Linked DNA regions of Homo sapiens. The protein of the gene in region 3 interacts with the protein of the main gene of each other region in a biochemical or structural test. Each region holds a gene or a part of one and is shown on either strand. Other genes may lie near its edges.

What was found.
Region 1: the proteins of PIM2 (region 3) and HSF1 form a complex in vitro, tested with the Homo sapiens proteins (one study listed by BioGRID).
Region 2: the proteins of PIM2 (region 3) and FBP1 form a complex in vitro, tested with the Homo sapiens proteins (one study listed by BioGRID).

What each region holds. Positions count from the first base shown.
Region 1 is NC_000008.11:144,308,578-144,312,322, reverse strand, and holds part of HSF1 (heat shock factor protein 1), read right to left. Parts: exon of another isoform or gene 3,418-3,745; coding exon 3,309-3,417; intron 2,869-3,308; coding exon 2,732-2,868; intron 2,552-2,731; coding exon 2,427-2,551; intron 1,150-2,426; coding exon 1,074-1,149; intron 1,003-1,073; coding exon 941-1,002; intron 819-940; coding exon 722-818; intron 624-721; coding exon 487-623; coding exon of another isoform or gene 446-486; intron 361-445; coding exon 79-360; intron 1-78. UniProt on the Homo sapiens protein: Functions as a stress-inducible and DNA-binding transcription factor that plays a central role in the transcriptional activation of the heat shock response (HSR), leading to the expression of a large class of molecular chaperones, heat shock proteins (HSPs), that protect cells from cellular insult damage.
Region 2 is NC_000009.12:94,618,810-94,622,554, forward strand, and holds part of FBP1 (fructose-1,6-bisphosphatase 1), read right to left. Parts: intron 1,683-3,745; coding exon 1,520-1,682; intron 1-1,519. UniProt on the Homo sapiens protein: Catalyzes the hydrolysis of fructose 1,6-bisphosphate to fructose 6-phosphate in the presence of divalent cations, acting as a rate-limiting enzyme in gluconeogenesis. Plays a role in regulating glucose sensing and insulin secretion of pancreatic beta-cells.
Region 3 is NC_000023.11:48,917,399-48,921,143, forward strand, and holds the start of PIM2 (serine/threonine-protein kinase pim-2), read right to left. Parts: upstream 1,627-3,745; 5' UTR 1,437-1,626; coding exon 1,376-1,436; intron 1,248-1,375; coding exon 1,138-1,247; intron 434-1,137; coding exon 383-433; intron 1-382. UniProt on the Homo sapiens protein: Proto-oncogene with serine/threonine kinase activity involved in cell survival and cell proliferation.

The DNA.
Region 1 (3,745 bases), on a different chromosome or scaffold from region 3:
CACTGGGACAGTCGGGGCTGAAGCCCAGGGCTGTGCGTCCAGGCGCTGTGGGTGGGGCCAGGGGTGGGCGGCACTCACTTGTCCAGGCAGGCTACGCTGAGGCACTTTTCAGGGGTGGAGGTGGGCGGGGGGGAGGGAGGCCGGCCCTCGGTGTCCGTGTGGCCCCTGGCGTCCGTGAGGGCTGTGACGGAGGCGGGGGCAGGTTCACTCTCCCGCAGGATGGAGTCAATGAGGGCGGTCGGGGACAAGAGGGTGTCCACGGAAGATGGGCGCCCGGGACTCGCCTCCTCTACCCGGGGGCTCTGAGGCGGGCTGGGGGGCTCCTCCTTGACACGCACCAGGGGGCTGCTGGATAGGGGCCTGCACACGAGGGGGGCCAGGTGAGCTGGCGTCTCGGCCAGCCCCACCTCATCCCCAACTCTGCCCTGGGCCCACAGGGGCTCGCCTCATTGGGGGACAGGATGGCTGGGGTGATGCGGCCCCCACCTCTCGTCTATGCTCCCGCCGGGGGAGGCCATGGGGCTGGCAGGAGCCAGCTCGGTGATGTCGGAGATGATGGGTCCAGAGCTGGCCACAGCATCAGGGGCGTAGAGGCTGGAGCTGCTGTAGGCTGGGGAGGGGGCCTGCAATCAAAGGCAGGAGGTCCATGCAGTGCCGGCAGGGGCAACCCACCCCACTGCCGCCTGCATGCCTGGGCGGGTGCCCTGTCTCCGGCACTCACCGAGTAGGGGCCCGAGCCGTGGACGTGCTCCAGGGAGAACTGCCGGCTATACTTGGGCATGGAATGTGCTGAGCCACTGTCGTTCAGCATCAGGGGGCTGTGGGGAAGGGTGCAGGTCAGCCACCACCCCCCACCTCGGGGTACCCGGGGCACAGCTGACAGAGAAGGGGGACAGCCCTGGGCCCCGGGTGGTGGATGCAGGCATCCCCAAAACCTCACATCTTTCTCTTCACCCCCAGGATCCGGTTTGACTGCACCAGTGAGATCAGGAACTGAATGAGCTGTGGAGAGAGAGGACACAGTTACCCCGGCCCTTGTGGGGCCCCCGCCGGCCCTCTGGCCCTGCCCCCACCTTGTTGACGACTTTCTGTTGCTGGGCATGCTTCTGCCGAAGGCTGGCCACCTCCCGCCACAGAGCCTCATTCTCACTGCAACAGACCAGGCTGGGTCAGTGGGGCCCAATCCCATGAGCCCCAGGGCTGAGGGAGCCCCACAGACCCTCCCTGTCCCCCATGCAGGAGCAGGGGTAAGTGTGACCATGTCTGGCCTGGCCCACCCCAGGATGAGAACTTGTGTGTGGAGGGACTGGGGGCCAGGGCCAGGGCTTGCTGGTCCCACTGCCCCTCCCTGCCGGGGACACCTGGTGTCACGTAGGGTGTTGGGGATGGATCCATGCGAGCCAGGTGCACCCGGATCCTGGCATCCATCCTGGCAAACACCTGGAGGGCTGCCTTGGACACAGGCCAGGAGCAGACCCTTGGGCCGCCCTTCCAAGGCCTGAGCAGCCAGGTTAAGGGAGGACGGTTCTTCAGGCTGCGACACTGGCTGTCCCATGTCCTGTAGGTGCTCAGGGCCCTCGCCAGGCCTGGAGGTGGCTCAGGGGTGGGGAAGAGCTGTCCCCAGCCAGGTGAGCAGGGCCATGACCGCGCTCCTGCTGCTCTGGGAGGCTGGGCCCTGTCAAGCCTGTGAGTCTTCTTGGTAGGCCAGGTCCACGTGGCCGGACTCCAGGAATCACAAAGCCGGTGGCTCCTGCTAGACCCCATGCAGGAGAGTCTGAGGCCAAGGCCTCCTCCATGACGTGGGGGTCAAGAGCGCCTGCTGCACGGAGCCGAGGAAGCCGTACTGGCATTGGGGTTCCCGCATGCCTGGAGCCCCAAAGTGGACGTGAGACCTGAGCTGGCCTTCCGAGGTGGGCTTGCCTCAGTTTCTCAGGTGCCACCGTGTGTTAGGCTCCTGCTAAGGTTTCCCCAGAGCCGCAGGGTCCCGGTGAGGAGGGGCTGGGGGCTAGCTCCATGGGCCCAGGCGAGTGTGGGACAGCGGTTCCAGGAAGGGCCTGAGGTGGGTCTGACCCCAGGCCCGAGGCGGGTGGGACGGGTCTGCTGTGCAAGGCTTGTCCTCAAAAGTAGGCTGGTGGGTCCCGCCAAGCTCGGAGCCAGGCAGAAGCCAATGGCCCAGAGGGCGCTGGGGATGTGCAGAGCAGGGGACCCTCCCAACCCCCTTCTGCACATGGAAAACGGCTGGCCCCAGAGCTGTTGCAGCAGCCACGGGCGGCGGGGCTGGGGCAGAGGCCCAGGGTAGATGTGCGTGGAGCGGGAGGGTGGAGCTGAGCACCTGGCCCCGGTCAGGGCCCTGCCCCCACAGCACCCGGGGCCTCTTGGTGGGCGCCAGGACCCGCTGTGGCCCATAATGCTGGTGTGGGACCTACTGCTTCATGGCCAGGAGCTTGGAGTCCATGCACTCCTGCTTCCCCTTCATCAGCTGCACGTCCGTCAGCAGCTTGGTGACGCTGTCCTGGCGGATCTTTATGTCTTCACTCTTCAGGGTGGACACCTGGATTCCCGAGAGGGACAGGAGTCACTGGAGCAGCCTAGGAGCTTGGCAGGCTCAGGCTCGTCCACTGCAGCCAGGTCCCTCAGGAAGGGGCAGGCTGGGGTGGGAGCCCTCAGGGAGGGGCGGGCGGGGAGAGCTGTGGCAGGTGAGACCGGGCAAGGGTGCAGGGCCGGCACTCACACTGGTCACTTTCCTCTTGATGTTCTCAAGGAGCTGCTCCTGGCCACGCAGGAAGCATGGGTGCTGGAACTCCGTGTCGTCTCTCTCTGGCTTGACCAGGCCGCCCTGCTCGATGTGGACCACTTTCCGGAAGCCATCTGCACATAACAGGGAAGGGGGCAGCTCTGCCTCAGGGCGGGACCAGAACCCCTGAAGAGCGGCCACTGCTCCAGGAGGCTGCTGCGGGGCTTGGCCATGGTCAGACCCTGCCCTGCCCCCTCAGAGCCCATGCCTGGGTGGCCGAGTGGCCTTGGTCTAAGGGAGACCCTGTGTCCCCACAGGGCTCCCTGCGCCCGACACACGTGGAGTACAGCTCCGGCTTCACGGTTCTTCCATGGGGACCCCAGGTTCATACCCACAAGGACCCTCCCCCATGGAAGAGGCGGCTGCTCCCCGGCCCCCAGGCTTGCAGGGTCCCACGCCATGCCCTTGGCCAGCACAGGACGCCCCGTCCTTCATCACAGGGTCCTCCTGCTGGGGTCCCGCCATCTGCAGGTCTGCCTCCCGCACCCCTGCGCTGCCTGGAGGCAGCACTCACACATGTTGAGCTGCCGCACGAAGCTGGCCATGTTGTTGTGCTTGAAGTACTTGGGCAGCACCTCCTTGGCAAACTGGCCCTGGTCGAACACGTGGAAGCTGTTCCCGCTCTGAAAGGGAGACACATGGGTGGGTCACGCGTGGTGGTGAGGGGCAGCGTGCCCAAGCCGCCCCTTCCCCAGGCCGCCCCTTCTGAAACGCAGGCAGTGCACGTTCCACCTGATGGGGCTGGGGCCATGGGAGGCCCAGGGGGCTGGCGGGAGGCGAGTTCGTTCCTGGGACCACCTGCCACACGGGCCTCATCTGTGCAGCGTGACCTGCATCCTCACTGTGAGGCCCAGGACTGGGCGGTGGGCAGATGCGAGGCCTTCCTCTCAGTCGGAAAGCCCCTCCCCAGGGCTTCCAGAGAAGGCCACGTTTCCACTCACAAAGCATCCG
Region 2 (3,745 bases), on a different chromosome or scaffold from region 3:
GCCTTCAGTGATATCACATTGGTAGCTTAAAATCAACGATGGGAGAGTATTCACACCATTGACAGAGGCAAGTGGACATATCAGAGACTTGTTTGTTTGCTTTGAGACCCAGTTTACCAGCACATCACTGGGAGTTTTCCATCTCCAAATTAGCCACTTTACAATGTCGTTTTTAAATGTCTGTAGCAGATTAACATGATTCCCTGCCCTCTTGCTCTTCACAGACCACCCTCACTAATGCAGGAGGAACTGGAAACTGGAACACAGGAAGCTGCCTATCATGAAGGCCCATGATAGACAAGAGAAGTCCGGCGTGAGTGATGGAGAATATTAAACAACAAATCTAAGCCATACGCCTAAAGCTGCCAAAGACCTTGAAAGGCCCAGCTGAGAAAAACATGAACTTCAAGTCTGGCATGTACGGCTATTTTAGGAATGATGAAAAACAACTTCATCAGATGTGGCTCCTGCCCTCTTAATAGGGTGAGGACAGGCAGCCTCTTCATCTTCTCATTGTTTTTTCCTAATTCTACTCCTTCATGTTCCCAGTTCCTCTCAAACTGGGAAAGATAGTAAGCCCATATAACTGCACTTCTAATCTCAGAAGTTTTTTTTTCTAATTACAATTGTTGTTTTATAAAAGCTGGGAATACTCTTTCATTTAACAATCTTTTTCAACAGTCATTTGTTGTTGAGGCCCTCCAATGTGCCAGGCATTGCACTAGACACTGGGACACAGAGACAAATAAGATTCATTTTCTGCTCTCAAAAAGCAGAGATAACGCCAGGTGTGGTGGCTCACACCTGTAATCCCAGCACTTTGGGAGGCCAAGGTGGGCGGGTCACTTGAGGTCAGGAGTTCAAGGCCAGCCTGGCCAACATGGTGAAACCTCATCTCCACTAAAAATACAAAAATTAGCCAGGTGTGGTGGCGGGAACCTGTAATCCCAGCTACTCAGGAGGCTGAGGCAGGAGAATCGCTTGAACCCAGGAGGCGGAGGTTGCAGTGAGCCAAGATCACACCACTGTACACCAGACTGGGCAACAAGAGCAAAACACTGTCTCAAAAAAAAAAAAAAAAAAAAAAAAAAAAGAAGCAGAGACAGACCAATAGGGACTCCAATGCGTGCATCAGGGATGGAAGTTTCAAGCAGTCTAGGTCAACAGGAGGGTCAGTGTGAAGGTCAGGAATTTGGTGGATAGGGATGTAGTACAAGAGGTGACCAACAGAAGCCAGGGTTTGAAGAGCCTTAAACATGGCAATAAAAAGTTAGAAATGGAGATGAGTTTGTGGGAGTCCACTGGGGAGAAGGCGGCGTGAGCCACAACACTCATCTGCACAGTGGCTCAGGGAGGATTCGAGAGATGGCAGCAGTGAGGTGGAAGCTATGAAAAGACCACAGCAGGGATCTAGAGGGACTCCCAGAAACCCAGCTCAGCTGAACAAGTGGAGTCAATTATGAAGCTGGGAAGAAGACCGGCTACATTAAAACCCTCAATGGTGGAAGTACAGACCCACCCTTTTCTCCGGTTCCACTATGATGGCGTGTTTATCTTCTTCTGACACGAGAACACACGTGGCAAAGGATGACTTTAACATGTTCATAACCAGGTCGTTGGAGAGGACGTCCAGCTTCTTAACTTGATCACCTGTCACGTTGGTAGAACCAGCAATGCCATAGCTACAGGGAACAAAAGCCACAAAAAATAAGCCATGACCACCAGAACATGTAGATGAGTCCATAAACCCACCAAAAGTGAGTGTTCGGTAAGATTTAGAAGAAAGAGTTCATGTCCTTTGCAGGGACATGGATGAAGCTGGAATCCATCATTCTCAGCAAACTAATACAGGAACAGAAAACCAAACACCACATGTTCTCACTCATAAATGGGAGTTGAACAATGAGAACACATAGACACAGGGAGGGGAACATCACACACTGGGGCCTCTCAGGGAGCTGGGGACTAGGGGAGGGAGAGCATTAGGAGAAATACCTAATGTAGATGACAGATTGATGGGTGCAGCAAACCACCATGGCATGTTTATACCTATGTAACAAACCTACGCATTCTGCATGTGTATCCCAGAACTTAAAGTATAATAATAATTTTTTTAAAAAAGGGCCGGGCGTGGTGGCTCACGCCTGTAATCCCAGCACTTTGGGAGGCTGAGGCGGGTGGATCATGAGGTCAGGGGATCGAGACCATCCTGGCTAACATGGTGAAACCCCGTCTCTATTAAAAAATACAAAAAAGTAGCCGGGTGTGGTGGTGGGTGCCTGTAGTCCCAGCTACTTGGGAGGCTGAGGCAGGAGAATGGCGTGAACCCAGGAGGCGGAGCTTGCAGTGAGCCGAGATCGTGCCACTGCATGCCAGCCTGGGCGACAGAGCGAGACTCCGTCTCAAAAAAAAAAAAAAAAAAAAAAAATACAAAAAATTAGCCGGGTGTGGTGGCGGGCGCCTGTAGTCCCAGCTATTCAGGATGCTGAGGCAGGAGAATGGCGTGAACCCGGGAGGTGGAGCTTGCAGTGAGCCGAGATCGCACCACTGCACTCCAGCCTGGGCGACAGAGCAAGATTCCGTCTAAAAATATATATATTTTTAGAAGAAAGGAAGGAGGACATCAGCTTGGGAGAACAAGGCAGGAAGGTCTGGACAGACCCTAGAGAGGAGGAGATACTATCATCTGCCTCTTCACCTCGAACCTGTCATGGTGCCCTGCACACTTTTGTGGTTAAATCAGTGTTTCTTAACTTTGTTTTCATTATGATTCCCCTAGGGAGCTTTTTAGAACATTTTTTCCTCAACCATACTCCCCCATGAAATATTTTTAATACTACAGATATAGTAGATATCTGTTTATTGCAGTATGTGTCTCAGTGCTTTTTACATAAAAAGTTTGCGGGTGTTTTTGGTTTTGCCCAGAAAGAACCAGTGTTGGCCCCCAAACACACGGGTTAAACGAATCAATAGAGAGACCCAGCAAGCAAGGAAGCCTGGGTCGGGGGTAGCCTGAGTTGCGAGCCAAGCCAAGGGGTTTATGGCTTTATAACTAAAAAGACCCTAAAAGAAACAAAGCATCAACCGGCCCCTCTGCCTCATTTCATAGAGGAGAAAACTCAGACCCAAGACTCCTGTGGACTTCTCCACACAGGCAGAGGGTAGAAGTGAGACGCTGCCTATGACTCCCAGGCAGAGGGTGGAGGCGAGACCCTGCCTATGACTCCCAGGCCAGGGCTCTCTTGGTGACACCCTGGGCCCCTGGCAGGAGTCCTAGGGCATGGAAGTTGCAGGGATCCTGGAGTTTTCACTATTTTTAAGCAACCTGCAAGTCAGTAATTATAGAATTCCCAGAATCCAGTGGCTTGTCTAAACGCAGCCTAGCTTCTTAGACTTACAGAAGCGGCAGGTTGTCATAGCCTGGGGTTGCCCTGAACACAGAAAGGAGGGAGACGTCTCACAGGAAGGATGCACAGAGCAAGGCGAGAGCCTTGATGTGGGAAGGGGAAAAGATGGGTCTTTGAAGACACCAGCAAGCCTCTGAAAGTGGGTGGTAAGGGCACACCCGCGCCCTTGGCCATGATGGCGATGTGCGCTCGCCTGGGAACTGACGGTCCCTGATCCAGTGGCCGTGACTGCTTCAGCTCCTGCAAGTGCATTTGCCCAAAACATAACTCGCTGTGACTGGCTGGGCAAAACTGAGCCCCTCCTAGAAACCATCCAAACCCACATGCCTGGTCCGGCC
Region 3 (3,745 bases):
CCGCCAGGGGGCGCTCCCAACTCTACAACTTGCCCAGACCCGCCCTGATGTCCGTTAGCGTTATAACGGCAAGAGAGAAGCAGCCACCATCACCATGGCAACCAGTGACCTCTGCCCCTTGTTCCCCACCAGCACGCCCTGCGGGCAGTCCCCCAGCAGTGTTTGGAGGAAGGATGGTAAAGGTTTGTTGGAGGGGAGAATCCAGGGCTCTAGGGGAATTGGGGTGAATCAGAACTGTATGTCACCCCAAGGGAGTATAAATGGGCTGGCAGTATTCTCACTGTTACAGGGCCCAGGGAGTCATACATCCCCTGGAAAAGCAAGGAGGTGAATACATCAGTGATGGAGTAGGTAGGTTAGGAAGGGCTCCGAAGGTACTCACCAAGGGGGACCAGCCCAGCACACGATTCCGGGGAATCACTTTGATGGCCACCTGGAGAAGAAGGCCGTGATAAGGAGGCCAGCAGGTGATCCCCAGACCCCTCCCAGTCTAGACCTTCTGCCTACCTCCAGTATTCCTCCATCTACCAGCACTCTAGTCTTTCTGGTCCCCAACCACAGCACCCCACAGAACGCGTACCAGGGCGTCTCCCCTGCCCTCCAGGTCCTCGGAACCAAGTTTATCTCTCCCACCTTCCTTAGCCCTGGGCTCTCCGTTCTCAGGCATCAGGACTCATCACTCCAAGTCCTGAGTTCTAGATTTCCTGATACCCCAGGCCCACAATCTTCCTATTTAGCTCTACGACACCCCAACTCTGTACCAGGGTCCTGGTCCGCATGACTCCACACTGGACACCTACCTCCAAAAGTCCCACAAATCTCACATCTAGGTCCCTGCTTTCCCACACATACACAGCCTGGACCCCGGGGTCAAGGAACTCCGGAATCTGAAGCCCCCTGCCCCCCCCCCCCGCCCATAACCTCCTAGACCGACACACACACGCGCACGCACACACACCTGGCCCTCTACACACACTGCAGGCTCACTCCTCGGACACGGACACGGACACACACACACACACACCTGGTCCTCTACACACTCTGCAGGCTCACTCCTCGGTCAACCAGCATTCCAGGGCCAGGACCCCCGCCCCCGCCACACGCACCTGACCCTCCCAAGACCCTCATGACGGATACCTGGAGTCGATCTGTGAGGCGGTGTCCTGCGAAGACGGTGCCAAAGCCCCCCTTACCCAGGAGGGGGCCGAGTCGATACTCGGCCTCGAACGCTTCCCGATCCTTGCCTCCTACGCAGGCGGAGGCGAGGAAGTCAGGGTGGCGGCGTGCTGAGCCCAGCCACGACTCCCTCCCCCCGCGCTGCAACCCATCATTCCAGCCCACCCCGTCTGGTTGCAGTAGGGGAGGATGTACTCACCTGGCGGCGGCGTGGGGGTCCCGGGGGGCGCGGGAGGCCCCTGTAGAGGCTTGGTCAACATGGAGGTGGCGCTGCGCAGATTGAGCCCACTGAACCCGCTAAGCCCGCAGGGCGTGGACGCCCGGGGCAGCGCAGCTGGGGAGCCAGGGCTGGGGGGCGCCAGGGTGGAAAGCAGAGAAACTGGTGGCCCGGAAGCGCCCGCAGACGGCGCAGCGTTGAGATTCGCCGCGCGCGCCAGCCCCAATGCTACTGAGCCTGGGCACGCGCCTCCCGGGAGAGTCACCCTGGGCGACAGCCCCGCCCACCTGGCTTTGATCAATCCGGACGCGGCACCTGCTGTACCACAGCCAATCGGAGCCAGTTCTTATTTGCATACCACCCTCATCGTTTCAAGGGCCCCCTTATGCAAATACACGCTCGGTTCTTCCGAGGAGGCGGGGCCTGCATGTAAATGAGGGGGCTTGAGGTGGGGCTCACACCAAGAGGAAACCGGTTCTGGGAATCCCTTTGCAGCACCGCGCTTGTTTTGGTTGTTGCGCGGGGTTGTTGTTGGTAGTGGTGGCGGTGTGTGTGTGTATTTACACTTAAAAAATAACTGCGCAGTATCCTTTCCTGGGAAGTTGGTTTGCCGCCGCTGCCTGGATATTAGCACAGAGATAGCGCCAGGCCGGGCTTCTAAGAATTCGCGCTTGTGGCTATCCAAGACTCCGTCTCGAAAGGTGCTTGTCGGACTCCTTCACCGGAGTCCTCCAGGCGACTGGCGGCCTTCACTGGAAAGCTGAGGCCAGGGCCCTGGAAATATCTGGTAGCCAGGGAGGGGGAACCCCTACCATCAACGCCACGGGTGTGCATTGGTCAAAGGCAGCATTGCCTGGTGAGTGTTTATTGGAGCTTTTAACCCTGAGCCCTGGGCCCAGTCAGCAAGTCTAGAATCTAGAACAGCAGGGGGTGGTTCTTGGGGGATGGGGGTGAGCCCAGAGTGGTGGTGGCATGGGGCTGCTCTTGGAGTTGAGAGAGGCAAGGACTGAGAGACATGATAGAGGCTGCTAGAGAAGTGGCAACTCTCAGACACAAATTTGTGAAAAACAGCCAGAAAAGGCGCCACACCCCAGGAAGAAAAATGCACTCCAAAGACACATGAATGCCAAGATATACACAAACACATACTGTCAGACACATTCACAGAAACGACCTAGATACACATGCAGCCAGAGACTGACATACACTTTCAGGCAAGCACACTGTCAGAAAAATAGTTATGTCCTAGAATGACACCCAGAGATACACTGTTACAGAAAGGCACTCACGCAGACCTACATTTGCCATGTGATGACACAGAAATGTCCCGTCACACTGGCAGAACTTGTCACAAACACACTGTCACCATCAGATATGCACTGTCACAGCAAGACTTGTACTGTCCCAGAAATGAGAGACGCAGAGTCTGTCACAGGAAGATGCACAGATGCTCCAGGGACACACATGCACTGCTCTGAAGGCAGACATGTACTGATGTGATAGAATCACATTTTGTGGCAGTGTCACAAAAACAGACATGGATAGACCTGTTCAGACACAGACATACATACACCATGACACATGCAGTTTATCAATGGAACAAACTGTCCAGAAATAGCTACCCAGAATCTGTTGCAGGAACACAAACGGACATCCACCCCATCAGACAGAAACCACAGATGCACTGTCACAGACAGACCCACGCAGGCATGCACGCATCTTGGATTTAGACACAAACTGTCAGAGATAAGAGTCCCACACTCAGTCACCATCTGACACACCTGGAAACAAGCCCTTCATCACACACACAACTGGGGACACTCTGTGAGCTGCACATGAAGACTTGGACTCACCACAGTCACACACACACAGACAACACCAAAAAAGCACACATGTACTCTCCTTTGTTCACCCAACGTTATTGGGGGTGGTTTGCTATAAGCCTGCCAGGCCTTGATGGGGATGTTGGTATCAGAGATGTACAGATAAGTCAGGCATCAAACCCGTGCCATGAAGTTTATCTGTAGTACAGCTACTGGGGAGATTTTTAGATAGAAGTGAGAATGTGAATGGGCTTCTCAGCAGGTGACCCTCTGTCTTGAAAGACAAAGAAGGTTGGTGGCTCAGGACAGGGGAGGGCAAATTGCAGGCAAAGGCCAAGAACACTGGACAGAGCGGCGAGAGATTGGCAGGGGCCAAATGGTGCAGAAACTTCTACAAAAAGAATACTACTAACATTTGTGCTCTCTCAATGTGCCAAGCACTGTGCCCAGGTAGTACGTTACTTTGATCATACATATTCCCTCTAGATGATCACAGCAGAAGCATGAGGGAGTAGATATCACTTTTTTT